6 separate regions of the Homo sapiens genome follow, and regions 1, 2, 4, 5 and 6 are each linked to region 3. The links come from fine-mapping of genetic effects on gene expression. A gene starts in region 3. Each other region holds a variant in brackets. All regions are shown on one strand. Distances are from middle to middle.

Region 1 (5,073 bases), 98 kb before region 3:
AGCCACCATGCCCAGCCTGCTTTCACTTTTAAGTCCGCTAGATTGGTAGCAAAGGGACCCCGTACTATAGAGCCAATTGCTTGATACCATGAATGTGCATGTCACGTAACTGGCTCCCCTACTTCATCCAGTGCCCATTTGAGAAAATTAGATAGGACTAAAATTCTGTCTGAAAAGTACTGGTTTTCCTTGACCTCGTGATAATATCTCTACAGTTTACATAATTGACATCCAATTATTGAATTTGGTGGGCTTATTATACTTTTTATCCCTCAAAGAGCCTGGCACAAGTGTTAAGCACAGGTGATGTTCAGCAGATATGTGTTGATTCAACACCTGCCACTGCAGCTATCTCTGACCCTGTGTGGAGCAATGATTGGCAGAACAGACTGACACTTGGTTATCAGGCTGTTTCCATAGGCACAGAACAAAAACAAGAAGATAGTATCCTTGAAAAGCCAGTCATAGCCTCTTCTCTATACTTGCAGTCCTGCACATAAGGGACAACTTGGTGAGCAGAGTGTGAGCCGAACTCCAACTCCACTCAACCTTTGGCTGGTGTTATTGCTCAGTGCACAATCTGGACAACTGAACATGGTTTACTTGTGGTTCCCCTGGACTGGCACAGAAGTCAATCTCCCAAGGTAGCCTTCTGAAAGGAGCCTGTGTCCTCTGTTGTCTCTTTCCCATAGCACTCCCTAAACATCAAGCACAACAGCAGGCACTGAGTTCTGGGAACCAGGCTTAGTGTCCATGAATTTGCCTTCATTCGGGATGTGTGCCACAGTGGATCACTGGGGTTTCATCTGCCTCAGGACTTTGGCCTCTTGGCCACCACGGCTCTTCCTCAATTACGGCTATCCAATTTATCTCCAGTGTGTTTCAGATAAAGGACTAATCTTATTTTATTCCTTGCTAAAAATTTCTGTTCACAAATACAAACAAGAAACATGAGCTCTAACTATTTGGGACCATGGACAGATAAGGTTTGTGTGTAATGAGGCTGAACACTTAAAATCATGGGTGAAGGTCAGACCCCCCAACAAAATGAGAATCTGTTCAAAATGTTAAAGCAAAATATCAAATGTTCCCATAGAATAAACTTTATTTTTTTGATTACTTAAGAATAATCTTCTGAATTGCTTAAAATAGTTTAAAACCCTGAATTTGATTAAGCAACCAGGAACAGATGTTTTAGAGAGTGAAGTTTCTTAAAATCTGGATGGGCTATAAATATCGACATAAATGGAAAGTTATCTAGTCACATTTTTTAAATTGAATTTAAGATTTTTTGAAATGAGAGACTGTATTGGATTATTTTACCCAAACTTTTTTTTCTTATTTGTTTAATGTATTTCCACATGAAGCTCCATATCCACATATTCAATTTAATATCCACAGCAACTCAGGGAAGTGGGGGAAAGCCGGCAGTCACAGGCCTCACTCAGCTCCCATGCAAACTGAAGGGCCAATCTCACTCCCACCGTGCCCCCACCAACAATCCCAAGTCTGTTCCCAGGCGAAGGGCGAGATGGGCTTGAAAATTTGCCCAAGACCATCTTCCTCCCAGCTGTGAGAGAAAAGGGCTTTAGTTCTTCCCCCCTCCCCGCCTGTGAAGTCTGCATGCCCGATTTGCACTCTCCCGCAAGTTCTGGTCAGGAGGCTTCTCGCCGCTTTCAAATTGTTACAAAGTTCAGCTAGAGAATTCCTCCTCCCCGTGGAGTTTACCCCCTGCTCCTCTGCCCACCCTCCCCATGAATCCCTGTGGTGCCCAGCGGGAATGGGCTGCTTGAGGACCCAGGGAGCTCCCAGGGCCTTCCTGTTGCTTCCTCTACCTCTGTATTTCGCTCGGCTCACTAACTTGACTCAGTTCCAAGTAAAGTCGGAAACTTCTCCCGCAAACAGACCTTCAGCTTCTCCAGTGGAGGTGTGTGCTTGGGAGAGGAGGGTCTCCCTTTCCCACTTCCGCAGCTGGGGCACTCACAGTATTTGGGGTGTCTCTTCCGGTCCTGCAGGAGAAGTCCGCTTCCTTCAGAGGGTCTGTGGGGCCTCTTGGGATTGCTGGTTTGTTCTTGCAGTCGATCTGGAGCTAAAATTCCGGTCCTCATTACTTCAAGAGTGGAGAGTGGAGGTTGCGCAAGCAGGCAAGATGGTGCTGAGCCGGTGAGCGGAAAGCCAGCTGCATGCCTGGGAAGATTCTGGTTTTCTGCACCCAGCCTGCTGCAGCTTATTCTCATCCTGCTACACTGACTTCTCTCTGTATAGCTCTGCCACTCAATTAAGTAAATCAAATATGCACTGTCTGCTGGCAATGGAGACCGAGGTGCAGGTAGGCACGGCACTTCTTCCTACGCTCCATTTTCCTTGGAAACCGGCACTGTGGATGGCACATCAGTAGCAGAACCAGCAGCAGCTGCCTGTTAAGATGTGAATGTATCTCAGCAGCCCTTGATATGGCAGGCATCTGAGGTACACACCTGAGTATCTTCCTCTATCTGCAAGGGGCCAGCGGGGGAGATCGCTGACTCCAGAACTTAAGAGTAGGAAAGTGGTATGATCTCCAGCACTATGAATCACATCCTGAGCTGTCATCAGTGAAAAATAACTCCATCGGCAGCTTGAAATACTCCTCAAAGGACAGTTCCCTAATGATGTCCTTTTTCTCCCAGAGAACCCATTATTTACATATTTTAAAAATTAATTAAAAAGTGACCAAGTTTTTTTAAAAAAGACATTTGAAAAGTTTGTTCATTTCAAGCAGCTGGTCACAAGAACAGACTTAC[G/A]TGTACAGCAAAGTCTGGATTTTATTTGGAAACTACATGCATAGCAGAGGAAAGCTGGAAATAATTTCTCTATAGTTCTGGCTGTAAAAGCATCACAGGACCCATGGGCTGAAAGATTCCAGTAAATCTAATCTGCAAGCATCTGCCCTGGCACCCAGTGTGCTTACAAATGGCACTGCCCTACCTGTAAAGAGACGGGAATCATTAGGCTGGCGAATTCAGTGATTGGAAATGTCTCAATATATTATAATACACCAACCCAGATAGAAATCCCTGTGGGAACAACAACAAAAAAGTGTTGCTCTCACCAAATGCCCCACGATGTAGTGCACTAAAAGACAAGAGACATCTGGAAAAGGTGGCAGAAATATTAAAAATTACCAAATTCCAGAATCCCTACGTCAAATGAAAAAAAATTTTAAATCGAAAAATAAATCTATTCACGTAGCACTGAAACTAGGAAATAGTCTCATTTCATACGAACAACCTTAAGAAATGTCATTCAGAAGCACAAAGGGACTCCAGCAACTACGCTCCTCAGAGGAGCGGTGGTGAATGGACAGACTCCTCAAGCTCTGGCTATACTCCCAATGTGGAGGAATGGGGGAGCTGGGATGTGGGAGCCATTCTTCGTCTCTGTCAGTAAGAGCCACCTCAGCCCAAATGTGGAGGGTTTTGAAAATTCGCCACTATACTCCCCACTGGTAGAAGTAAAAGCTGAAGGGAATGAAGGAACAAAGTGCCTGAGGCCGATTACTTCACACACAATTAAATGCTGGCCTAAGCTGAGAACAAAGCCCAGGCAAAAAAATACTTAGAAATTCCATTTGGAGAGCCCCACTCTGAAGAGTCCATTCTCTCTTCCATTGTGATAAATAGAATCTTTCTGGGCACATGAAGAAATGCTGGAATTTGCAACTTTTATTTTCTGCTGTCCATACAAGAGAAAAAACTCAAGCAAATGCCCAAAGATGTGTGTGCAACAATGTTGCCTGTGGCATTGTTTGTAACATCTAAGTCTCATCTACAGGGACACCAATAGGACAATAGATCATGGCACATACGTACTGTGGATATGCTGCAGAATGTGCCATGCAGGACTGCCACTGCCATCTTCTTCACTCTGGCACCCAGCATAAAGCGTGGCATACTCTATCCACCAACAATCACAGAGTTCATCACCAGTAGGTGCTGGAGGATGCATCAGTAAAGGAAAGGAACACACTACTGTGCAAACTTTAGAACAAATGCAACTTACATACTGACATGGAAGGATGCCAAGGTATATTGTTGCATGAAAAGCACCAAATTACAGAACACAGTATGACACCATTTTTATTGTTAGTGATTTCCTACACATTTATTTCTTCATACATTTCATTTTAAAATTATGTATATTAATATAGGTATGTAGCATTTATATACACCTGCAGTGCCTAAAAAGGTGTTGCTCACTGACATCCAGAACTTCTCTTCTTATAGGCAGATGGAGAGCTGAATTCCCTCATCCCTTGTGGTTGGATGGGGCCTCATGTCTAGTTTTTGCCAATGAGTTGTAAGAGTAAATGACACATGTCACTTCCAGGCCAGACCATTTACATACCAGCATGGGCCTCAGAGTTTCTTCCCTTTCCTAAGTTTATCTTGAAAGTATATATGTGCTGAGATCAAGCCTATGGCAACCTGGATCCTGTAGGGTCTATGAAGAGCAGGAAAAGAAATGGTGCAAGGAGCAACTTCAAAAGCCTCCCCAAAGCCAAACTTCACCCTCATCATCATTTGATTAAAAAACATAAAATTATGTGCTTTCAAATGAGAGCTGTGGACTCCCTAAGTCCAGCCTTTGGGAATGGAAGACTGGATGATGAACTCAGTGATTGTTGATGGATAGAGACTCCTTCAAGGAAGCTTGACTTCTCTCCAACTACTGGATCAAAGCATGTCCAAATTGAAAGGCAAAAACCTCACAGAAGGCAGGACTGAGAGGACTCTGAGAAACCTTCTTCTATAAAGGCATCTCTAAATCCAGGCATGAAAAAATAATATCCTGATAACAAGAATGTGAACAAGCAACTCTTTACATCACGTCAACAAATCTAGATGCCTAGCCTCCCACAGCCCCATGCCAGTTGCTAGCAAGAAGAATTTAGACTTCACTTTTACAGACCTTGAGTGGTCAAGGGTCTGTAATCTTCCTGGCCAAGCCTGTTGAAGAGGGCTCCTGCCCTATAAAATGGGAGGATATGCCATTGACACTGGAGACTAATTAAATGCTATCTCCTGGAGTTAT
Region 2 (5,073 bases), 300 kb before region 3:
TTTTCCTGTGTACAGCCCGCTTGTCCATCCCTTCATATAGTAACAAGTGGGGCACTTCTATTTTTCATGGGAAAATAGTACACTGGGGGAAGTCCTTCATTCCTGACTTCAGGAAAGCCTCCTGACTTGAGACAGCATTGAATTTTGGTAATTTTGAAGATAAAACTTTTTACTTTTATTTTTATTTACTAAATATTAGATTTATTTATGTAGAATTTCTTTTGATTGTGACACTTTTAATCTCAAGTTAAAAATATCAGAAGAAAGCAATTCCTCAATTCAATCATATTCTTCATTTAATAAGTAATTGAGATTACTTATTTATTCTTTGGTGTTTAACATCAGTGGATAAAGAGCTAATAATATTGGAACAGTATGATGTGAAACCAAATAAGTGCCCCACTGTATTAATCTAATTACTTTGTCCTGCCTCTGACTTTTCTAAAGGAGGGCAGGCCAAGGGAATATATAAAATGCCATTCTGAAAAGGTCTTAATCTGAGTTGGTTGAAAGCCTAATTTATCTAAGTACTTGCTACAGGGCTTTCAGCTGTATTACTGCAAAGTGATAATAGACGTTCTTGTTTTCTCTTCTTGGAGTTTTCTCTACAGTCCCTTAGGGGACATATTGCCTGTGATTTTGCTATAGTCTGAATGTGTTCCCCAAAACATATGTGTTAGAAACTTAATCCTCAATATAACAGTGTTGGGAGGTGGGATCTGATGGGAGGTGTTTAGATCGTGAGGGCTTTACCATCATGAATGGATTAAGGCCACTTGGAAAAGGATTTGGGAGTGGTTTACTCCCTCTCACTCTTCTGTATGAGGACATGAACGTTTGTCCTCTGTTGCCCTTCCTCCTTCAGCCTTATGAGGATGCAGCAAGAAGACCCCCGCCAGATCAAATGAACCTCCAATCTTGGCCATCCAATCTCCAGAACTGTGAGAAATGTTTATTTTTAAAAGAAATTTATTTTTTATTTTTATAGAGAAAGGGTCTTGCTTTGTCACCCAGGCTAGTCTCGAACTCCTGCGCTCAAGTAATCCTGCCGCGGCCTCGCAAAGTGCTGGGATTACAGAGTGAGCCACCATACCTGGCCACGAAATAAATTTGTTCTTTATAAATTACCCAGTCTGTGGTATTCTGGTACAGCCACACAAAATGGACTAAAACAGCTTAGTCTTAGTCTCACAAGATTAAAGTGAAAACCATCTTCTTCTTCCTTTTTTTTTTTTTTTTTTCCTGTAAAGGTCTTCCAGGTCCAGGGCTCAGGAGCCATGGTCCAGTTGTTCTCTGCTGCCCATCTCATTCTTTTGGGTGTTTGCCATAATCCCACCTCTTGTTGGAGATTTCTAAAATACTGTTTTTATATTTATGGAGATTTTATGTTTTATCTAAATGTCTAAGTGTGTGTGTGTGTGTGTGTGTGTATGTGTGTGCCTATGTTTGAGATCTTTGAAGAGCCTGTAGTTGTTCCAGAATTCTGTAAAAGTTTACTGTAGTTTGGATATGAGTCCTCTCTGAGATCAAGTAGAAGGGATGGGTTAGAGACCCTTTGAACCTCTCTTTTATTTTTAAAAGAACCCTTCTTTTATCAGTAGCTTCTACTGATTCCCCTATCAGTATATGTTCCAACAGCGCTGATCGCCAACAAACCAGGACACGTCACTCTTTCTAACCTTCATTACTCAGATAAATGAAAGTCCAAAACTGAATTTGTTAAACCCTTGCTGAGAATAGTAATTTCCTTTAAGAAATCAAATTTTATAATTATCATCTTTCTTTGTACTAATATTTTTCCTAATAGAATTTACATTCCAAAATCCGATTCAACTAAACATTTCAAATTCTGACAAAACCATGACTACAGTATAAGCACTCTTACCTCCTGGCTCTGTGTACCCATTGTCTCCATATTCTCATTATATCCCATTCCTCCAGCCTCATTTTCCCTAGCTTTCTTGTCCCCTACACACACCATGCTCAGTCCTTTTCCCTCTTTCATGGGCTTTTCCCAGTCTCAACGATCTTATTCCTTTCATTTCGATCAGAAGGTCTCAATCAGCAGAGATTTCTGCAGCTTCCCTCCCCAGGGGACATTTGGGAATGTCTGAAG[A/T]CATTTTTCGTCGTCACAAATCAGTGGTGACAGGGAAAGGGGGGTGGGTTTCTATTGGCATCTAGTGGATAGAGTCCAGGGATACAGCTAAACCTCCTACATTGGCACTAGACAGCTTCCCACAACAAAAAACTATCCAGCCCAGTAAGCCAGGCGCGGTAGCTCACGCCTGTAATCCCAGCACTTTGGGAGGCTGAGGTGGGCGGATCACCTGAGGTCGGGAGTTCGAGACCAGCCTGACCAAAATGGAGAAACCCCGTCTCTACTAAAAAAAAAAGAATACAAAAATTAGCTGGGCGTGGTGGCACATGTTTGTAATCCCAGCTACTTGGGAGGCTGAGGTAGGAGGATCGCTTGAACCTGGGAGGCGGAGGTTGCGGTGAGCCGAGATTGCGCCATTGCACTCCAGCCCGGGCAACAAGAGCGAAACTCCGTCTCAAAACAAACAAACAAAAAAAACAAAAAACAAAAAAACAAAAAACAAAACAAAACAAAAAAAACTATCCAGCCCAAAGCAGCAATAGCGTTGAGGTTGAGAAACCTTGATTTAAGTCATATGTCATTATTTTGTGGACTGAAACCTACATGTAGCTGCCAGAGTTTAAAAAAATCACTGTCAGAGGTTTATTGAGTACTTTGGATATGCTAGGCACTATCACAGCTGTGGCCTAGCAGAGCTTTGCTTTGCTGAAAACCAAAATTCAGAGAGAAGTCAGTAGGGAGAAGGGACTCAAATAACCTCTTTCTGGAGTCAGATATATTAAATTTTCAAAGAATTTCTTTCTTGACAGCCTACCCTCTCCTGGAACATGCTCTACAAGGCTTTCATCCTGAAAGCCATTGGCAATGTAATATATATTTTTTTATGTTTAGATAATCAAAAGTTTTTATTAAATCTTAAAAAAATCTCTCTCAAATACTCCTTTGGGGAAGAACACAGAATGTTGAAATTGGTTGTAAAAACAAGATATTACTGAAGAAAAATGATCCATAAATAAATAAGATTAAACCTTGCACAGGAAATTTTTTGGGAAAGGAAATGACAGCTCCCAGTGATGGGTATGAACTTTTTAGAGATCATGGAAATTCGGTGACAGAAGAAGATATTGCAGCTTGAAATTCATATACAAGGAAACTAGTGAACTAATCTTGCAAAAACAAATAATATTAGTTTATTATTTATTTATTTTTAAAAAAGCAAATCGCCAGGCACATGGGCTCATGCCTGTAATCCCAGCACTTGGGGAGGCTAAGGCGGGTGGATCACTTGAGGTCAGGAGTTTGAGACCAGCCTGGCCAACATGGTGAAACCTAATCTCTAGTAAAAATACAAAAATTAGCCAGATGTGGTGGTGTGCGCCTGTAATCCCAGCTACCCACGAGGCTGGGGCAGGAGAATTGCTTGGACCTGGAGGCATGACTTAGTTTTGGAGTCAAGCATTCATAACATTTTTATTGTGTTTTAATGTGAGAGAAAAAGTTTAAATGTAGGGGATTCTGGTTCTAGTACTGAAACCTGCTTATCCTGAGATCCTAGGCAGCAGCATGGTGTAGCAGCACATACAGAGGCAGCACAGCAAACAGATCTGGGTTCAAATCCCGACTCTACAATTTGTAGCTAAGTGACCTAGGAAAATTTTGGTGAAAGCTTTAGAGTCTTCATTTGTATAATGAGCATAAATGTATCTACAAATTAGGGTTGCTTACAGGCTTAAATGATATGGTTATGTGGAAACAGCTTGGAAAATAGTGCATTCTTAAAAAGTGCTAGTTTTTAACACAGGAACAGAAAACCAAATACCATGTCATGTTCTGACTCATAAGTGGGAGTTGAACAATGAGAACACATGGACACAGGGAGGGGAACATCACACACTGGGGCCTGTAGGGAGTTGGGGGGCTAGGGGTGGGAGAGCATTAGGACAAATACCTAATGCAAGCGGGGCTTAAAACCTAGATGATGGGTTGATAGGTGCAGCAAACCACCATGGCACATGTATATCTATGGAACATCCTGCACATTCTGCACATGTATCCCAGAACTTAAAGTAAAATTTAAAAAAAGAAGTGCTAGTTTTCTCTGCAGCCATTTCCCCTAGGGTATGGCATCAAATTTCTCTGAACCTTTATCTCCTCATATACCACCTCAGAGTAATACCCATACCCTGTCTTATGACTATTTCATAAATATTTGTAGAAGCTAAAATGCAATCATAAATAAAAAGCACTTTTGTAAATTGGCCATTGATATGGCTTGGCTGTGTCCCCACTCAAATCTCAGCTTGAATTGTAGCTCCCATAATTCCCACGTGTTGTGGGAGGGACCTGGTGGGAGATAATTGAATCACGGGGGCGGATTGCCCCATACTGTTCTCATGCTAGTGAATAAGTCTCATGAGATTTGATGGCTTTATTAGGGCAAAACCCTTTCACTTGGCTCTCATTCTCTCTTGTCTGTAGCCACATAAGACATGCCTTTCCCCTTCTGCCACGATTGTGAGGCCTCCCTAACCACATGTAACTGTGAGTCCATTAAACCTCTTTTTCTTTGTAAGTTATCCAGTCTTCATTATATCTGAATGTTTCATGCAGTTCTACTTAGCTTATTATATCCTACTTGAGAGTGCATTTTCAGAAATTATACCTGTATGTATTATATTGTGCCTAATTAACATTCTCAGCAGTCAAAAATCTCACAGTTCATGAACTCTGTGGAGTAGTAGGCAATGGACTAGCTCTAAGAAGGGCTGTCTTCCCTGCCTCATTCTTCCCTGAGAAAGTAACATAACTGCAATTTCAGGTAAAACCTAGTGCTAGCCTTATCTTCCCTTGTCATTTCTAGTTCTTCCTGGCAAAAGAACCACAGGAAGGAGCTACAGCACGGAGAGGCAATGACACATTTCTGTCCTGCTTCAATAGTGGTGGGGTCCAGCTCCTACCTAGAAAAAGCCACAGAA
Region 3 (5,073 bases):
CACTTTATAGGTTTTTTGAACAGTGGATACTCTCAGCACATAGCTCTAGATAGAGGTGACTAGGGAAAATAATCATATCTCACTTTCCAGAGAGCAAAAACCATGGCCCCGTGGTGTCTGCTTCACACCAAGCTGAATTCCCTTACAAAGAAGATGTGGAGCAGAGCTGAAAACCAACCCAGGAGAATGTGTGTCTTTGAACGAAATCATCTCCAAATGCCCTGGGAAGTGCTTGCAGGCTTTGTTTGTGCTGCCCCAGAAGGGAGACTTTTCACAAAGGAACTGTTTTTCAAAGAACAACAAGCCCTGCTATTTTAAACTTGGGGGTGGGAGATTGTATCTGGACCGTTTACACAAGTGAGTGCTGGCTGACTGACATCTAACCCCAGTGTTTGCTGGCTCCAGCTTTCCAAGTAAAGCAAAGAGAGGGACTTGCTTCTGATACGTCTTGAAGCCACAGCAGATGAGTTGTCCAGCAATATTTGAATTTTACAACATGAGCAGAAAACCCTGCTTAGAAATCCTAAACAAGGACAGGCTGGTGATGTTTATCACCCGAGTGGCCTTGGGAATTAAAGGGATGTCAGAAAGTCATGGAGGACACTTCCCGAGGCTTCAGCACAGTCAGCAAACACAGGACTTAGTGCATGCTAACCCAGTGCTCTGTGTGCGTGTGCATGCGTGTGGGTGCATATGCGTGTGTGTGTGCGTGTGTGTCCCTATTATTGCTACAGGACAGTGCTGCATGATTCTAAGAGTCAGACTACCTGAGCTGAAAACTCTGCTCTACATTAGCTGGCCTCATAAGCTCTCCAAGCTGCAGCATCCTCATCTGTACAGCAGGGACAGCAACACTGGTACCTGCACCCTGGAAGGCTATTGCCAGTGATCGGATGGGCTGACACAGAGTGCCACGCGGGCCATTGCTGCTGCTAGGACTGTTTACCCCCAGAGGTACAATGAACCCCCCACCAAACATGAAGGTGCCTCTGACCCTTCCAAGTCCAATAAACTGCTGACTGTTAGGCTTAAAAGAATAAAACAACAACAACAAATTGTCCACCAGAACGCTTCCAATGCTTCCTACAATAACATGAGTTCAGAAATTCATAAAGAGAAGCAGCCAGCTGTGGTCAGTGAGACAGGACAGGAAAAAGTGAGCCCTTATGGAGGTATAGTTCCCCCAAAAGGACTATTCTTTCAAAAATACAACCCTAAATCTTTCCAGGAAACCAAAACACAGCCAAGCCTGCTCAGTAGGGGGGAAGAATCACATTTCCCCTTTCCTGACCAGAGGTTTAAAACTAACTAGAAACACTGCAATGACGGCCAGTAGCCAGTTAGCACTTAAAAAAAAAATTTTCCATGTTTAGAGTCTGAAAAATAGGGGATCAAAACAGTACAGCATTCAAAGAGGAGACAAAAGAGAAAAAGTTACCAGCTACCTCTTGGGTCTTTCAAAGACTGCAGTGTCATCCCTGTAAAAGAGTGAGGTACTCACCTTTCTATAAGAATGAAGGACTCATCACCTTAAGCACTGAATTCTGAGAAAGCCTAGGCTCCTGAGGTCCCAGCCCAGATTTCCTTACAACGCAGCCAAATGGCTTTTCAGAGTTCAGTTCTGCCGGGTGGGGGAAGGGAAAGGGGAGCAACAAAATTCCCGCAAGTCTTACCACCACTGTTTTAAAAAGAAATAAAGAAGAGTCACTAACCTTGCCTCCTGTCCGGGAAGCGAACCGGGCCTGGCTGAGGCTGTCTCCCATAGCAAAGCGCCCCAAAGTTAAGGAGCTGAGCCACCACGGAAAGGTTTGCAAGCCAGCTCCTCTGGGCACATGGCATGATTCAGATGTTGAGGAGAAGAAAAGTCAAAAAAGTTTTAGCCCTCAGCTCCAGAAATAAAGCGCTCGCCTGTGGCCCAGCAGGAAGATGCAGGGGTGCATGGTCAGGCGCGAGAAGGCAGCGACTGCAAAGCTGCCCGCGATCTCCCTGTGCTTTTTTAAGCAGAAAGGAGCTAGACACCTTTTTCCCCTCCCTCCTCCTAAAAGGGGAGTGATTCAGCTGACAGTGTCCGCTTTCGGCGGGGTGTGGAATGGGCCAGAGCGGGAGGGCGCAGCCCACCCCGGTCCCCACCCCTCCGCCTCCCGCATGCCCCGCGGCCTCGCAGCCCGCCCGCTCGGTGCATCTTCCTCCCGGACTCCCACCCCCGCGCTCCTCCGGCCCCGCCCCGAACGCCAGGCCCAGCTGGCCGAGCCGGCCAAATAGGGGAGACCCGGGAGAGCCGCCCTGGGAGGCACTGGAGGAAGCTGCGAGTGAGAGGCCCCCAGGCCAGCCCCCCGGCGTGCTTAAATACAAGCTCAAAATGAGGAGAACAGAGTTGAGGCAGAGGGGGGCCCCACTCCCTCCATCCTTCCGCGCTCAGCGCTGCCCCCTCCCCTGCTGTTCTCCTCCAAGTTCCTGAACTTTTCCCAACATCGCTCTATCAAGACTCCTCACCCACTCGGACCGCTCTGGGATTCTCTTCCACTGGAAAAACTAATAGGCGATTTTTCTCTTTGCCAAGTCACACAAAGGGAAATGGGCTGCGCTAATCTGCTAATGTGACCTCAGACAAGCCCCCTCAGCTGTGCAATGAGGTGACTGCTGCAAATGCCTGTGGGCCCCTCTGAGTCTGCAGATCTCTGTGCGGCTCTTCTGATTCTAGAACCCCATCTTTCCTAGCCCACCTCCATTCACTCAAAAGGAAACCAGGAATTAAGTCAACCCAGGAAGGTGTTAAGGTATCTCCCCAGTTTCCCTGAACTGGCTACCCTGGAGAGGGCGTCCATTCATTCAGAGGCTCAAGCTTTTACATCGGTCAGAGAATGCCACAATCCAGGACGCTTGCCAGGCATCTTGAGAATTTACTGGGCTAATCCAGCCAAGATTTTTCACCTCTGAGCTGAAACAGGCCTCCTTACTCCATTCAGGAAGAATTCGGCCCCCAATATTGACTTTTCCCTGGCTGCCAGCCAACCACATGTGTTAATCAAGAGTTCTGGGATACCAGCTTACTCAACCTTGTATAGGGACAGAGCCTCCAAGGCAAACTCAGTGGTCTGAAAGCAAGGTGGTCCTCTCAGATGTGGAACACATGGGCACCAAGACTTTGAGAGGTATATGCTAGTTTCCTATTTTTGGTGTTACAAGTTACCATAAATTCAGTGGCTTGAAACAACTCAAATTTCTTATGTGACAGTTCTGATCTGAAACTGGTCTCACTGGGCTAAAATCAAGGAGTTAGCACAGCTGCATTCATTTCTGAAGACTCTAGGGGAGAATCTGTTGTCTTGCCTTTTCCAACTTCTAGAGGCTGCCTGAATTCCTCAGCTCATGGCCCTCTTCCCCCATCAAAGCTAGCAATGGCCCTTTGAGTCTTTCTCACATCACATCACTCTTCTTCCTCCCTTTTCCACTTATAAGGACCCTTGCGATTACATTAGACTCATCCTGGTTAACCAGGACACTCTCCTAATCAGCTGATTAGCAACCTTAATTCCATCTGCAACCTTAAATCCCCTTTACGTGTAACAGAACATGTTTTGTTGTCACAAGCAAGTAAAAGAACTACTCTGAGCCTTTTTTCTGTTACGTAAACATTAGGAAGCAGGATCACAACTGGAGTTAAAAGACATTCAGATAACACAGGCATGATGACCTGCATTTGCAAGGGCATTGAAGAACAACTTTGGGCTAGAATTCTTTTTGCTTCTTTTCTTTTCTTCCTCTTCCCCTTCTTCTTTGCTTCCCTTCACCCTTTCCTTGTTTCTCTCTCCTCCTTGTACTCTTCTGTCACTCTTCTTCTTCCACCTTTTTTTCTCCTGCTGCTCCTTTTAATAGCAAGCAAGATCTTGTCCAAAGGGCAAGATCACTCCTAGCTCCCAGGTCCTGGAGAAGAGATTTGTCTCTCAGGCAGAAACCTGAAGAACTCTGGAGAACTGCTGAGTTCCACCAATATCAGGGATGATACACTGAACACTCTGGCTTCACAGTTTAGCCTCTTCAACTCTAATGGCATTTCCCTTATTCTTTCTCCCATCTACTCTCAAGACCATAACCAGGAATATCTATTATCCATAAGTCAACCAAGACTGAAATATTAAAATTATAAAATCCCACCAACACTTTGTATTCTGCCAGCCCTTCCAAACCTTTATACCCAGTACCTCGGATCTTCAGCCTAGTAGGAACTTCTAGTTCCTTGATCTCCCCATCTTTGGTTTTCTAATAATCAGCATCTCTCTGGACTCACCACCTTTTTTGCCCAGTCATACCCTTTGATCCACCTCCTTAAACCAGTACATTCAACATCTCATATCTTCCTCATCAAAATCTAACTCTGTTTTACCCTAGCTGCTGATTTTCTCTGCTCTCTGTTTCCAAGTGCTGTTGAAAAAACTCACATAATTGCATCTAATTGTGCAACTATCAATTCATGTCTCCAACTTTAGCACGTTCTCAACATGACTTAGCACAAATATACATTCTGCTACTATTCTAACGTTCCTCCTACTCTTTCCAGAATTTACAAAAATCTCTCCAAAGCTTGGAGTTACCTCAGCGTAGAGAGACTTAATCCTCCTCAACTTTGCTTCTGCTTAATGAGAAAAGGTAACAAATCCCCTTGGTGACCAAGGTTGGTAGCAATAAAAAAGCCAACTACCTCTCCTGCCCACTGTAGATAGCAGAACTGTGAATCACTGCATAGTATCCAAACTACCTCTGAGCTTATACAAACATGCTGCCCTTGAGGAAACACTACAAAACCATGCAAGATTCCAGAGTTGAATGATAGCTAAGAATAGCAAGCATTTATTACATGCTGACTATATGCTTGGCTCTGTGCTAAAGACTATATGGGTATTGCTTTACTTAAACTTCATAAAAAACTTATTATGTGGGTACCATTAGTATCTTCATTTTATAGATGAGGAAACAGACACTGAAAGGTTAAGTAACTTGCCTAGGATTAAGTGGCTGTGAAAGTAAAATCAGGATGAAGCACTAAAGTTCAGAGAAGTTAAAAGATGTAGCAAA
Region 4 (5,073 bases), 350 kb before region 3:
TGGATAACTCTTCTTCTTTCCTACTCTTCCCTCCCTTCCCGGATAAACTGCCACAACACGCAGTAGTTCACACAGTTTTTAGAAGCCTTCCTGTGAGAGCCAGCAGTCAGTTGCTCCTGACACCAAGCGATGGTCAGTTAGGTAAGATAATCAGTCTAGTAACACACCACTTCATTTTTGACTCTCCTTCTTCTCTGCCTCCTTTCTCTTTTCTATCACCCCTGCTTCCCTGGCACTGAATTTCCTAATAAAGTGTTAAATTTTTTCTCGAGATTCCATTTGATAGAAAACCCAGGATAAGACAAATCAGAATGATGGCAGAATCTGTCCATGGGAGAATTTTCTTTATTTTCTTTTTCTGAGATGGAGTCTTGCTCTGTCACCCAGGCTGGAGTGCAGTGGTACAATCTCGGCTCACTGCAACCTCCACCTCTTGGGTTCAAGTGATCCTCCTGCCTCAGCCTCCGGAGTAGCTGGGATTACAGGCATGTACCACCATGCCTGACTAATTTTTTTATTTTTAGTAGAGATGAGATTTCACCCTGTTGGCCAGGCTGGTCTTGAACTCCTGACCTCAGGTGATCCACCTGCTTCGGCCTCCCAAAGTGCTAGGACTACAGGTGTGAGCCACCACACCTGGCCACAATTTTCTTTATTTTCAGTATTGCTGATAGAGTGTTATTTATGCAATAAGCAAGCTTAGGGAGAATAATACCTCTTTCCTTCATTTACAGTTTAATTATTTTGTTCCATCAAACAGGCTGGCCATCTGGCAAACTGATCTGTGGGCTGACAAGAGGCCTGAAACTCAATAAGTCTGACTATGCCTAAAGCTTTAGGACAGATGCCAACTCCTCTTTGCTCTAGGAAAAGCCAGAGAATCCAAGGTGCTGGTTGTAAAACAGATGTTTCTTAGGCTGTGTGCCTCTGGAATAACTTTGATATTTGATCTTTTCTCTTTTGAAAGTATTTAATATTTTCCCTTCTCAACTCAAGACCCACAGCAGCCGTGGGTCAACTTTTAGCAGACTTAGAGGTATTCAGTGGCAGAAGAACACGAAAACCGAAGTATCCAGAAACATACTGTAAATCAATGAATGCACTGAATATTTACAATGAGTATAGATTATTTTTGTAATCAAAAGAAAATGCATGCTATTTTATTTTTATTTTTTTGCTTAAGTATAGTGGCAAGAAACCATTTTTTTAAAAAGCTAAAGTAGATTGAGGTTCCAAGATGGCTGAATAGGAAGAGCTCTGGTCTGCAGCTCCCAGCGAGATCGACACAAGATGAGTAATTTCTGCATTTCCAACTGAGGTACCTGGTTCATCTCACTGGGACTGGTTGGACAGTGGGTGCAGCTGTCCCTGCACCATGGAGGGCGAGCGGAAGCAGGGCGGGGCGTCGCTTCACCCGGGAAGTGCAAGGGGTTGGGGGATTGCCCTTTCCTATCCAAGGGAAGCCATGACAGACTGTACCTGGAAAAATGGGATACTCCCACTCAAATACTGCACTTTTCCCAAGGTCTTAGCAACTGGCAGACAAGGAGATTCTCTCCTGTGCCTGGTTCGGCAGGTCCCACACTCACGGAGCCTTGCTCATTGCTAGCGCAGCAGTCTGAGATCAAATGGTGAGGTGACAACCTAGCTGGGGGAGGGGTGTCCACCATTGCTGAGGCTTGAGTAGGTAAACAAAGTGGCCAGGAAGCTCGAACTGGGCGGAGCCCACCACAGCTCAGCACGGCCTACTGCCTCTGTAGACTCCACCTCTGTGGGCAGGGCATAGCTGAACAAAAGGCAGCAGACAACTTCTGCAGACTTAAACATCCCTGTCTGACAGCTCTGAAGAGAGCAGTGGTTCTCCCAGCATGGTGTTTGAGCTCTGAGAATGGACAGACTGCCTCCTCAAGTGGGTCCCTGACCCTTGTGTAGCCTAACTGGAACACACCTCCCAGCAGGGGCCAA[C/T]AGACACATCATATAGGCAGCTGACCCTCTGGGACGAAGCTTCCAGGGGAAGGATCAGGCAGCAATATTTGCTCTTCTGCAATATTTGCTGCTCTGCAGCCTCTGCTGGTGATACCCAGGCAAACAGGGTCTGGAGTGGACCTCCAGCAAACTCCAACAGCTCTGCAGCTGAGGGATCTGACTGTTAGAAGGAAAACTAACAAACAGAAAGGAATAGCATCAACATCAACAAAAAGGACATCTACACCAAAAACCCCATCTGTAGGTCACCAACATCAAAGACCAAAATAGGTAAAACCACAAAGATGGGGAGAAACCAGAGCAGAAAAGGTGAAAATTCTAAAAACTGGAGTTCCTCTTCTCCTTCAAAGGATCGTAGCTCCTCACCAGCACTGGAACAAAGCTGGATGGAGAATGACTTTGACGAGTTGACAGAAGTAGGCTTCGGAAGGTCAGTAATAACAATTTCTCTGAGCTAAAGGACATGTTCTAACCCATCAGAAGGAAGCTAAAAATCTTGGACAAAAGGTTAGATGAATGGCTAACTCGAATAAACAGTGTAGAGAAGACCTTAAATGACCTGATGGAGCTGAAAACCATGGCATCAGAACTTCGTGACGCATGCATAAGCTTCAATAGCAGATTCAATCAAGTGGAAGAAAAAGTGTCAGTGATTGAAGATTAAATTAATGAAATAAAGTGAGAAGACAAGTTTAGAGATAAAGAGTAAAAAGAAACAAACAAAGCCTCCAAGAAATATGGGACTATGTGAAAAGACCAAATCTACATTTGATTAATGTACCTGAAAGTGAGGAGAAGAATGGAACCAAGTTGGAAAACACTCTTCAAGATATTATCCAGGAAAACTTCCCCAACCTAGCAAGGCAGGCCAACATTCAAACTCAGGAAATACAGAGAACACCACAAAGATACTCCTCGAGAAGAGCAACCCTAAGACACATAATTGTCAGATTCACCAAGGCTGAAATGAAGGAAAAAATGTTAAGGGGAGCCAGAGAGAAAGGTCGGGTTACCCACAAAGGGAAGCCCATCACACTAACAGTGGCTGACACTCTGCAGAAACCCTACAAGAGAGAAGAGAGTGGGGGCCAATATTCAACATTCTTAAAGAAAAGAATTTTCAACCCAGAATTTCATATACAACCAAACTAAGCTTCATAAGTGAAGGAGAAATAAAATCATTTACAGACAAGCAAATGCTGAGAGATTTTGTCACCACCAGGCCTGCCTTACAAAAGAGCTCCTGAAGGAAGCACTAAACATGGAAAGCAACAACCGGTACCAGCCACTGCAAAAACATGCCAAATTGTAAAGACCATCAATGCTAGGAAGAAACTGCATCAATTAACGGGCAAAATAACCAGCTAGCATCATAATGACAGGATCAAATTCACACATAACAATACTAACCTTCAATGTAAATGGGCTAAATGCCCCAATTAAAAGACACAGACTAGCATTTTGGATAAAGAGTCAAGACCCATTGGTGTGTATATTCAGGAGACCCATCTCACATGCAGAGAAACACATAGGCTCAAAAAAAAAGGGATGGAGGAAGATCTACCAAGCAAATAGAAAGCAAAAAAAAAGCAGGGGTTGCAATCCTAGTCTCTGATAAAACAGACTTTAAACCAACAAAGATCAAAAGAGACAAAGAAAGCCATTACATAATGGTAAAGGGACCAATTCAACAAGAGCTAACTATCCTAAATATACATGCACCCAATACAGGAGCACCCAGATTCATAAAGCAAGTCCTTAGAGACCTACAAAGAGACTTAGACTTAGAGACCTACAAAGAGACTTAGACTCCCACACAATAATAATGGGAGACTTTAACACCCCACTGTCAATATTAGACAGATCAAGGAGACAGAAGGTTAACAAGGATATCCAGGACTTGAATTCAGCTCTGCACCAAGCAAACCTATTAGACATCTACAGAACTCTTCACCCCAAATCAACAGAAGATACATTCTTCTCAGCACCACATCACACTTATTCTAAAATTGAACACATAATTGGAAGTAAAGCACTCCTCAGCAAATGTAAAAGAACGGAAATCACAACAAACTGTCTCTCAGACCACAGTGCAATCAAATTAGAATTTAGGATTAAGAAACTCACTCAAAACCACACAACTATATGGAAACTGAACAACTTGCTCCTGAATGACTACTGGGTACATAACGAAATGAAGGCAGAAATAAAGGCGTTCTTTGAAACCAGTGAGAAGAAAGACACAATGTACCAGAATCTCTGGGACACATTTAAAGCAGCATGTAGAGGGAAATTTATAACACTAAATGCCCACAAGAGAAAGCAGGAAAGATCTAAAATCGACACCCTAACATCACAATTAAAAGAACTAGAGAAGCGAGAGGAAACAAATTCAAAAGCTAGCAGAAGGCAAGAAATAACTAAGATCAGAGCAGAACTGAAGGAGATAGAGATACAACAAACCCTTCAAAAACTGAATGAATCCAGGAGCTGGTTTTTTGAAAAGATCAACAAAATTGATAGACCGCTAGCAAGACTAAAAAAGAAGAAAAGAGAGAAGAATCAAATAGACGCAATAAAAAATGATACAGGGGATGTCGCCACCAACCTACAGAAATACAAACTACCATCAGAGAATACTATAAACACCTCTATGAAAATAAACTGGAAAACCCAGATAAAATGGATAAATTCTTGGACACATACACCCTACCAAGGCTAAACCAGGAAGAAGATGAATCTCTGAATAGCCCAATAACAGACTCTGAAATTGAGGCAATAATTAACAGCCTAACAACCAAAAAAAGTCCAGGACCAGAAGGATTCACACGCGAATTCTACCAGAGGTACAAAGAGGAGCTAGTACCATTTATTCTGAAACTATTCCAATCAATAGAAAAAGAGGGAATCCTCTGTAACTCATTTTATGAGGCCAGCATCATCCTGATACCAAAGCCTGGCAGAGACACAACAAAAAAAGAATTTTAGACCAATATCCATGATGAACATCAGTGCAAAAATCCTCAATAAAATACTGGCAAACTGAATCAAGGAGCACATCAAAAAGCTTATCCACCATTATCAAGT
Region 5 (5,073 bases), 89 kb before region 3:
TGTGATGTGTCATTAGGAAACACACTCAACTTATAACCAGGTTCCTCATTCTGAATCTTTCCCAAACAGGTTCTGTCTGTTATTAGGCAGATCTCTTTTCTTCTCACTGTGGTTTGGTGTCCTTTCAGAAAAAACAAGAGCCTCAAAACAAACTCATTCATTATAGAAACATTTACTAAGCACTTACAGTGTAGCAGAAATGGTGCTGAAGGTACAAAGGTGAGGGAGTCCCAGTGCCAGTCACTGAAGAATGAATACTCATTGTGACATCAGACAGCGAAGCAACAAGAAAATGCCGTGAGGTTGAAGATTAAAGGTGACTGCTGGGGTGTTTCCCATCTTTGTGATTTCCACTCTTTGTGATCCCAGTGCCAAATCATTGACTTATTAAAGTGGAGCTTTCAGTGGAAGATTGCTATGGTCTGAATGTTTATGTCCCTCCAAAATGTATGTTAAAAACCTTATCACCAATGTAATGCTATTAGGAGGTAGGGCTTTGGGAAGGCGATCAGGCCATGAGAATGGAGCCCTCATGAATGAGATCAGTGCCTTATAAGAAAGGCCCCAGAGAGCTGCCTTCCCATTCTACCATGTAAGGTTACAGTGAGAAGGCACTATCTATGAATTGGGAAGTGGGCCTTCATCACCAGTCACTGAATCTGCTAGCATCTTGATCTTGGACTTTCCAGCCTCCAGTACTGTGAGAAATAAATTTCTGTTATTGATAAGCCACTCACATATAGTATTTTGTTATAGCAGCCCAAAAAGACTAAGAGAAGTTCTCCAACACTAATCAAACAGCATTATCTGAAAGGGGCTGTGTTGGAAAGTTGTTACTGTGTTGAACTCCAGCTCAAACAACTAAGCAAAGCTAAGCTGGGCCAAGTACAACATTGGATCCTAATCACAGGCAGGTAGCATTTGTCAAACAAGATGACACCACCCACAATGTCACAGTAGTGGAGGTGGTGCTCATCATCAAAGATGCCACTGCTCCACAGGATGGACCACCCACTGGTGCTATGGTAACAGCAACATGCAAACCACTGCTAGGATGGCCACCTGGTCCCTGCTCTCTGCATCTTCCCCATGACTCCCGTTAAATGCCCTCACTGGGTGCTCTGCTTAAAGTTTTAAGATTTCAGGCAACTTCCTCTTCCCAGGTGGCATCTAAAGTTAACATCCAGGGATAGCTAACAGAAAACCACCTAGCCTTCCCTTTTTAAGACACTACATCTCAGGGGCCCTACTCTGATCCCCAAGTAAATTCTTGGACATCCTTTCAAGCTACAAATGTTAGCAATAGCAGTCCTCTATGGGAGACGTAATACAGTTGCTATTATTAGGCAATTTGCACCGGGTAACAAGTTTACTCTTCCAGATGTGGGACCTATTTGCGGCAAAAGTCTGTTTATTCCTTCATGTAAGAAATGCTTACTGAGGAACTCTACATGCCAGACAATTAACTAGGTACTTGAGATCCAAACACAAGTGAAAAACAACCCCTGCCCTCAGAAGGAGACTTACCCATAATCAGCAAGTGTCACTGATATTATAAGATAAGGATGTCCAGGGAACAGCAAGGCACAAATGAGGTGGTAGACAGTCTCTCTAGAGGGCTAGGAAAAGACTCATACATGATAAGGTACATGGATCCAGGGAAGATGAAGGCAGTGTGGGATTGCTTTTGAATTTCTCCAAACTCGCCCATAAAAGCAGACAGACAAACTAAGATAACTAAACAAAAAAACCCACAGACAAAACTATTACAAACCCCAAAAGAAGTGTGGTGGGAACAAACATCTGATAGAATCAGACACATTACTGGTGACCGGACATAAGCCCTGTTAATGAGAAGCTTACATTTAGAGAGTCAATTAAGTACACGCTATACACAACCTAAAGTGGTAAATGCTACCTTGGTTATTCAACTTCACTGTTACATGCCTTGAAGTGTGGGGTGCACTGGCCTGAACCATTCTGGTTGTGTTTGATTCCTTAGGATGCCACCAACAAATAACATTGAGAAATACCCAGCTACTTTCATGTTCTCCAATGGCAGCAAAGTACAATGATCTCTATGATTCATGGGAGGTCAGATGAAGAGTGAGACAATTGTATTAGTCTGTTCTCGCACTGCTAATAAAGGCATACCCAAGACTGGGTAATTTATAGAGGAAAGAGGTTTAATTCTTCCAGTTCCACATGGCTGGGGAGGCCTCACAATCATGGCGAAAGGCAAAGGGGAAGCAAGACGCATCTTACACGGCAGCAGGCAAGAGGGTGTGTGCAGGGGAACTGCCCTTTTATAAAACCATCAAATCTCATGAGACTTATTCATTATCACAAGAACAGCATGGGAAAAACCTGCTCCCATGATTCAATTACCTCCTATGGGATCCCTCCCACGAAACATGGGATTATTACAATTCAAGGTGAGATTCGGGTGGGGACACAGAGCCAAACCATATCAACAATGTAGGGGAAGAAGACAAGAGCCTAGCTGTGCTGCCTATTGGCTGGACATCCTTTACCAAATGTCTTTAACTTCCCTAGGCCTTAATTTTCTCATTAAAAATGGAGACAGATATAACACACACCTCATGGGCTATTATAAGGACCGAATGGGATAATGTATGTGGGTGAGGAGAAGTCTTTGCAAACTAAAAACTGCTCCAAAATACATTATCTTCATTCACAGGCCACAGTAGATTAAGTTATTCATATATATTCCCTTCCTCTTCCCCCATCTTCATATATAGAGTTCCCTGCCCCTTGACTTTGGGCTCATCTATGTGACTTCTTTTGTTGGAAGGGATGTTAGCAAACCCAT[C/T]GCAAACAAGCTATGATTGCACAGTGGTGCTCACCTTCTGCACCCCCATCACTGCCATGGGAAGAGCCTCCTGCCAACCTGGCCTCAGAAGGAACATACAGAGAGCAGACCTGAGCCCAACCCTGCATGAGGGGCCAAGCCCAGCTCTCTCACAGCTGGAAGGAGAGCCAGCCAGCCAACTCCCAACTGACATGCAGATGTGTGAGCAAGAATAAATGATGGCTGTTTAAAGCCACTGAGTTTTAGAGTGGCATTCCCCAACACGTGCTGAAAGGTACACAGCCCATCACTTCCCTCCTCAGCCTAAGAGGTCCTGGGAAATTGACAGCACTGTAGAAACCATTTTGATAAAATATTTGCAATGCAATTCACAAGTGAAAAGAATGATAGAGCCAAAAGGAAGAACTAGCCTAAGGCAGTGAGGTGGGTGAAGGGTGGCATCAGAATCATTCAGAAATTTCAAATTACATATACCTGATCCGCTCACCATCCCCATTCCATTCATTCCTATAGATATTTACCAGCCTAAGAGTAAGGAGGTGAAGAGATAGAACATTGTACTCCAAGAAATCATAGTAAGAAAACCCTGCACTACAGAATAAAAAAAAATGTGAAAGTCAATGGGGATCAGCACAGCAAAGATGAAGTACCCATTCATTCCCACTTTGCACCCCTGACAAACAAACAATGTCTGACTAGTACCAATGTACTCATGAGAGTGAGCATCATGAAGTCTGTAACATACTGGAAAATATTCCAGTCTACTCAGTGTGATATTATGTAAGCATCAGTTAATTTTAATTTAAATTCTAAGATTGATCAAGCTAACACTATGCTTTATACACAGCCCTGGGGTGGTTAGCTAGCATTACAACAAAAGGAGCCACCCTCCAGGAGAGGCTCCCCAAATACTTCCACTACCTGGGTCAACATCAACAATCCACAGCTTGCTAATTATTATATAACAAATTTTAAAAATTATTGGTGAAAGTAGGGTCTTGTTAATTAGCATAATGAATACTAGAAATTCAGTCTCATTAAAGAAATTAAAGATGTTGGAGATACATAAACTGCCATGGTAGTTGAGCCGTATTCTCCATTGCATGAACAAGGTATGAGACCCCAGCAAGGCTCAAGGTCTGTATAGGGCACCTGAGGCTTACTCCTTAATCAGATCCACATCCAGCAATTGATCACATTAGGAGGATCACTGACTGCACAGACTTGTAATGTGGCAGTGGCTGTGCTGAATCTGCAGACCATCCTAATGGAGTGAGGTCTCCTAAGGGGAGCGCGTGGAGGCTTTCATCAAGCTCACAGAATAGACCTATGCACTATTTTTGTGTCTACTTTGATAATGAATGTTTGTCTAATAAATGTATGTGTGACAGGAGAAAAGAGGTTATGATATGTATGCTGTGAAGGAAAAAAGGGCTGGGTGCAGTGGTTTATGCCTTAATCCCAGCACTTTGGGAGGTGAGGTGGGAGGATAGCTTGAGCCCAGGAGTTCGAGGTTACAGTGAGCTGTGATTGTGCCATTGCACTCCAGCCTGGGCAACAGAGTGAGATTTTGTCTCTGAAAAGAAAAGGGGGAAAAAAAAGCCACCTCTCATTTAAAAAAAAAAAAAGACTTTGTAAAGAACATAAATTGCAGAACACTTAAAAATAAAATTAAACTTTATTATGTTTAGAGTCTGCTGCTAAGTGGTAAATAAGTGTAAATATCTAAAATTAGATACTTTTTTACAATTTCAAGTAAGATGAATAAATATTTTAAAATTCATTATTTATTCTTCCATCTACTAGCTACAAATCTGTTGTGAATTTCAGCTTACTCATTAGTTATATAGGTCATATGTACCTTGAAGGAATGTTGTAAGCATTTAATGAAATGATGCAGAAGATCATGAAAATACAAAAAAATACTGCGTGTTTTCAATGTGTTAGTTCCTTCTCTCCCCTTACTCCCAATATACAGAAGTCACTGAAGAATCTAGAAATGCATCCAGTCCATACACAGAGATGTCATTAATGGAAGCACAGCCTCGAGGTTGGGAACACCATTCATCATGGCCAGCTAGCTCAGGGGCTTTTCAATACCAGTCTGTGGAATGGAATGGTGTTGGGCAGAAAGAAGTAACTTTTTAACTTTTTAACATTCTTACATGGAAAAGTAGAAACATCAGAACCTAATTTTAAACGATTCAATGAAATCCAAGTCAAGGAGTCTCGGCTTTGGT
Region 6 (5,073 bases), 310 kb before region 3:
TGAATTCGACATAATCACACAGCCGAATGCCCAGGCTTCCTAGCTTAGTTCAGGGTACTTTTCACTATATCTCACTACATTTGTTCTCCTTCCCTATATATAAATTTTTAGCTTCCCTTTCCAATGACATTTTAAGTCAACCACCAAACAGTTGGCACTTGAACATAGACCACCCAGGGGTCTTCACTGGTCAGTTTACCTTTCTCTGTCTTGTATCCCTGATCTCAAAACAGGTTTCTTAAGGATGGGGACTGCATAATGATTTCAAAGGGCTGCACAGACATTATTCTGTGTGATATACACAACATCCTTCAGAATTGTACACGGCAGGAACTCTCATTTGGTTGGGTCAGGTAGAATCAGATTAAAAGCTAGACAATATATCTATACAATTTCACAAGTTATATAATTTACATAATTTTTTTTCCATTTAAAGAGTTATGGGGGTAAGGAGGGAGGGGAGGGCATGGGTCTGATTGCTTCCTTTTGTTTTCACAATAGAATATATTTTAATGCAAACTCATTTTGAAATTTTCACATGAATTTAACACTCCTAGCTTTTTTCCATGTAAAACCAGGCCAGGGGTAGGAAATGTCTTACCTCGCTCCAGTTTCCGACGATCCAGTGTGCAGAGCCGTGGCCGTTTGTGAGCTGCTTGTAATTGGAGGCATTTAGCAAAAAGCCCTCAGTAATCAGACTTGTTGCATCCTCCTCAGTCAGGACTGGTTCAGAACTTTTTGTTTGGTTCATGTTGTTTGGAAGTTTCAGGTGGTTACGGTTTGCCGTCTTTCCTGAGGGTTCTGGCTGGTGGTCTCCTCCCAGAGGGAGCAGAGTGTTGGCTGGCTTTTCAGTAACCATCCCCTCAACTCTGGGTGTCCCAGTTTCGGAAGTAGTGGGCCTTTGGCTGGGGAGCAGTCCTTCCATTACTGTGCTGAAGGGTGGCCACCAGGACTCCCTGCTGAGATCTGGTGTTAGTGGAGGTGCAAGTGGCATTTCTGTACTTTCCACTGGAGCGTCATTTCCAGGTACTCTGATCTTGGTCCATATTACAGGATTGCTTTCATCTTTGTCCTCAGGCTGTTCTCTTTCTTCCCCTGAGCCACTGTGAATCTCCATTTCTGGACCTTTGGTCAAGGTATTGTAAAATGGAGTCACAGGCCAAGTGATAGGGTTGCGGGAAGATGACAAGCCAGAACCACTTGTTGTTGTAGCTACAAGGCCTCCCTCCGAGGTAGGACCAGTATCTGAACTGGAAACATTTTCCTCACTTGGCTGAATGCTCAAGGATTGGGAAGTGAGGATGGGCTGGGAAGTGCTTCCAGTGGAAATGAGATAGCGAGAGCTCAGCTCAGGTTGGGTTGAGCTATCTTGCCACTGTTTCCCACCCAGGTCTCCTTCTTTGGAGGCTGTGGTAGGACTAGGGCTGCTGATTGCTGGAGTGCTTGTGCTCATAGACTCAGGCCCTGTGGGTGTGGTCAGCATTCTGGGCCTGGATGTAGGTGGAGGGACGGGCTTTAGTGTTGGTGGGTTTTTTCCATTGGAAATAGTGCCTTTGTTTGGTTTCAGAACTCTCCGGCTAGAAGGGCATTGCTGGAGGCCACACAGAGCTCGGCTGTTGGGTTTCCTTGTCACATCGCAAGGTTCATCATGGTTCTTGGCACATGTGACACTGCGAATCCGCACTCCACCACCACAGGAAACAGAACACTAGAAGAGAGAAACAGCTGTTAGCCTGGCGAGAGAAGATGCTTTTATTCTCATGGTTAGGTCTATAACAGATCAAAACAGGCCTGATGGAAACTAAACTATGCAGCTAAAATTGTCTGCTATCTACATTTGGTTTCTGTGCTCTTTCAGTTTTCCATGGAAATATGTATCTCCTGGAGACCAGCTGGGACTCAGTCTCAACCATTTATTCTTCACAAACTGAAAATGTAAACCATGATGTAGTCAAACTGCAGTCCCTTTGGGCTGTGAATCATGGATGGCGGGATCCACAATGAATGCAATGGTTTACACAAGTTGCTAAATCTTTTAAAGAGCTAGTAAGTCACACTGTCTCTTTTCTGGGATTGTGATTTTATTAAATTAATGTATAATGTGTGCATATTCTCTGGAATATGAAATTCGGTATAAGGAACCTTTCCCTTTCTATTTAGAAAGCAACTATCATAACTCACACATTTTCCCCAGGTACCTTAAGCTCCATTTTCACTTGCCTATGGCAGGTGGAATCAGATTAAAAGCTAGATAATCACCATACTCACACAGGTGCATAGATCCAAG[AC/A]CTACTCTAAAATTTAAAGGTACATAGTTAATCAAAGGTAGGAAATAGCCTTTCCCAAGGAGTTCGGTCAATCCCTCAGCATGGCACTGAGGTATATATTCGGGTACTGGTAAGTGCCCCTCCCCAATGTTCCCTCCACATTCTGTATGCCATGCTGAAGCCCAAGCAGCTAGACTGCCTTTGGGGGAATCCTAACAGAACAGGCCTTCCTCAGGATACATGGTAAAGAATCTTCATTGCATCAATTTCAACACCTGTGAATGGCAGATATGGAGTTGCTATAAAACACTAAATGTCTAAATATTTTGAAAAATCCGTACTTTTACCAAATGGTTCCATTTTTAGCTTCTCTTTCCAATGGCATTTGAAGTCAACCACCAAATAGTTGGCACTTGAGCACAGACCACCCAGGGGTCTTCACTGGTCATTTTACATTTCTCTGTCAGGTATCCCTGACCTCAAAGCACATTTCTTAAGGATGGGGACTGCATAATGATTTCAAAGGGCTGCGCAAACATTATTCTGTGTGATATACATGACGTCCCTATGAGATGTACAAGGCAGGAACTGTTATTCTGCCTCCCACAAGTGAGGAGCCTGAGGCCCAGGAACTCACTTGAAAGGCGGCAAGTCAGTCATAGAATAAGCATTAGATTTATTTTTACCCCCATCCCCAAACCTAGTGCAACACACTGTACAAGTAGCTGTCCATGGAGTTCACTCAGTGACTTTTGATTTATTAAAAGCTATCCAAAGGCAGGAACTGTTTTTTATTCATAATGGAATTCCAGGATAGTTCTGAGGACACAGTGATCACCTTATACATATTAATTAAGTGACTCTTTTACCTGGAAAAAAAAATCAGGAATGGAAAAATTCTCACTCATGAGCTTCTGCATTTAGATTAAGTTCCTTGCCTTCTCAAGTTCTATTTTCAGTTTTCTCTAAGTAGGAACATAATATTGACATAGAAAACTTCTCCTTTATTTTGTTTCAATCAAACATAATCACTTACTGATGTAAAACAGCTCTGTGAAATCAGCTCTTTTGAAAAGCAGATGCTGTGAGCACAGGAGAATGTACAGCTGAAGGAGTGTCGAACTGTGTTTGGACCCAACCAGTGAAGCTGTGGATTTAAGATGTCCACAAAATATTAAAGCAAGTCACTCCAAGATGGAACTTCCAGATTTGTTTTGAAATAATAATAATAATAATTTGGGCGGAAATGATGCTTAATGCACAATCATTTCCCACCAAAGTGGGGGCTACCAACTGCAAGTGTCAGAGCCCAACAGGGAGGAAACAGTCTCTTCTGGCATGGTCCATGACTCACTTCTCCCTGGACCTAGAAAGGGAAGGCAGGAGGTATTTATCTTCCTGGTTTGCTGCACTGTTTCTTCCCTTCTTGTGTAGGAAGATACTCTGTGCTCCATCTATTTTAGTCACGCTGAGTCCCTCTCCATTTATTACATTCTAATCTGAACTTCTTGGATTTTCAAATCCCCACTTTGTAAAACTGATCAGTTTTGTATGTGTGAACACATTTCCATGCTGGCTGCCTCAGGCAGGCTCAGTCTTGAGAGCTGACTGATAACTGAGGTCCCAGCTACTGCCAACTCTTCTCAGGCAACAGGTGGCTCTCTTTCGGCTTTCCTTTCCATGAAGTATTAGACTAGATAGTAACATAATAGGAAACGCTTCTATTTTTATTTTCTTTCTCTTCTTTCTCTTTTTCTTTTTGGTTTGTTTTGACTTGAAATGTTGCTAATATCTCTAAAGAAGTTAGCTTTACTTGTACACTTTTACAAAAAAATTTTAAATGCCAAAGTATAGGATCATATCCCCTCCACCTCCCCATTGAACTATGAAGTCAAAAAACTATAAAACCTCTGAGAAATAGCTTAAATTCCCTGATGTATCATATTAACTCCTTGTGTGATTCGGTGACTAAGTCAGCTTCCTCACCTGGAAACAGAGACAGCAGCACCTACCTTTGCAGGCTACTGTGTGGATTACCTTCAACAACAGGCTTAACAGAGGTGGCATAACATATGAAGACAATTAGTGATTGAAAGCTATTATTATCACTGTTCTAATAATGATGCTGATAATAATAATAGTGATCATAACAAAAGGCTTGGGGTTCCCCAATTTCTACTGCCCTTGTGGGTGACACACAGAATTGTCTCAACAGGGAGGTGTGACGTGAGCAGCTGTCTTGGTGAGGTAGGTGCAGGCACATGTCTACAAGATACTGTGGAGATCCACACACCCCCTACTGGTTTACTGCTGGATGTTTTTAGATTCAGATTTCCTAGAGCCAACCGATGGATATGTGGTTTTCAAATTTACCAATAACAAGAACTAAGTAATCTTACTGATGGTGTGAATTTGCTCAACCTAAAAGGGTAAGGCAGGAGTGAAGAAAAGCTACTGTATTAGTTTGTTTTCATGCTGCTATAAAGAAATACCAGACAGGGAAATTTATGAAGGAAAGCAGTTTAATTGACTCACAGTTCTGCATGGGTGGGGAGGCCTCAGGAAACTTACAATCATGGTGGAAGGGGAAGCAGACACATCCTTCTTCACATGGCGGCAGGAGAGACAAGTGCAGACTGAAGTGGGGAAAGCCCCTGATAAAACCCTCAGATCTCATGGGAACTCACTGTCACAAGAACAGCACGGGGGAACAGCTCCCATGATCTAATCATTCCCCATGAGTTCCCTCCCTCAACACATGGGGATTACAATTTGGATTACCATTCAAGATGAGATTTGGGTGGGG

Which allele goes with the higher level. Alleles are on the strand shown, and positions count from the first base shown. SD is a standard deviation of normalised expression in the study named. Not every link is listed here.
For the expression in nucleus accumbens of the gene that starts at base 1,973 in region 3, G is the high allele of the variant in region 1 and A is the other (large effect, 0.95 SD a copy in GTEx).
For the expression in fibroblasts of the gene that starts at base 1,973 in region 3, C is the high allele of the variant in region 5 and T is the other (small effect, 0.25 SD a copy in GTEx).

Evidence for each region. PIP is the estimated chance that this variant, and not a neighbour inherited with it, causes the effect.
Region 1: its variant is the best candidate, but not a certain one, in a credible set for the expression of ADAMTS12 in nucleus accumbens (GTEx, PIP 0.68).
Region 2: its variant is the best candidate, but not a certain one, in a credible set for the expression of ADAMTS12 in testis (GTEx, PIP 0.69).
Region 4: its variant is the best candidate, but not a certain one, in a credible set for the expression of ADAMTS12 in nucleus accumbens (GTEx, PIP 0.63).
Region 5: its variant is the best candidate, but not a certain one, in a credible set for the expression of ADAMTS12 in fibroblasts (GTEx, PIP 0.84).
Region 6: its variant is the best candidate, but not a certain one, in a credible set for the expression of ADAMTS12 in lung (TOPMed, PIP 0.50).

The regions. Positions count from the first base shown.
Region 1 is chr5:33,792,279-33,797,351 of GRCh38, forward strand. The region is part of intron 2 of ADAMTS12 (ADAM metallopeptidase with thrombospondin type 1 motif 12); the gene reads right to left. Among named protein-coding and RNA genes, the nearest start is that of ADAMTS12, 97 kb to the right of the region's middle. The variant G/A (reference allele first, on the strand shown) is at 2,784.
Region 2 is chr5:33,589,676-33,594,748 of GRCh38, forward strand. All of the region lies in intron 17 of ADAMTS12 (ADAM metallopeptidase with thrombospondin type 1 motif 12), which reads right to left. Among named protein-coding and RNA genes, the nearest start is that of TARS1, 150 kb to the left of the region's middle. The variant A/T (reference allele first, on the strand shown) is at 2,117.
Region 3 is chr5:33,890,018-33,895,090 of GRCh38, forward strand. It overlaps ADAMTS12 (ADAM metallopeptidase with thrombospondin type 1 motif 12), which reads right to left and starts at 1,973. Exons shown (of 24, transcript NM_030955.4): 1 at 1,713-1,973. The coding sequence starts at 1,839. RefSeq lists enhancers at 1,255-1,756, 1,757-2,256.
Region 4 is chr5:33,538,600-33,543,672 of GRCh38, forward strand. The region is part of intron 22 of ADAMTS12 (ADAM metallopeptidase with thrombospondin type 1 motif 12); the gene reads right to left. Among named protein-coding and RNA genes, the nearest start is that of TARS1, 100 kb to the left of the region's middle. The variant C/T (reference allele first, on the strand shown) is at 1,966.
Region 5 is chr5:33,801,478-33,806,550 of GRCh38, forward strand. The region is part of intron 2 of ADAMTS12 (ADAM metallopeptidase with thrombospondin type 1 motif 12); the gene reads right to left. Among named protein-coding and RNA genes, the nearest start is that of ADAMTS12, 88 kb to the right of the region's middle. The variant C/T (reference allele first, on the strand shown) is at 2,834.
Region 6 is chr5:33,575,453-33,580,525 of GRCh38, forward strand. ADAMTS12 (ADAM metallopeptidase with thrombospondin type 1 motif 12) reads right to left here. Exons shown (of 24, transcript NM_030955.4): 19 at 602-1,708. Among named protein-coding and RNA genes, the nearest start is that of TARS1, 140 kb to the left of the region's middle. RefSeq lists an enhancer at 591-1,790. The variant AC/A (reference allele first, on the strand shown) is at 2,288.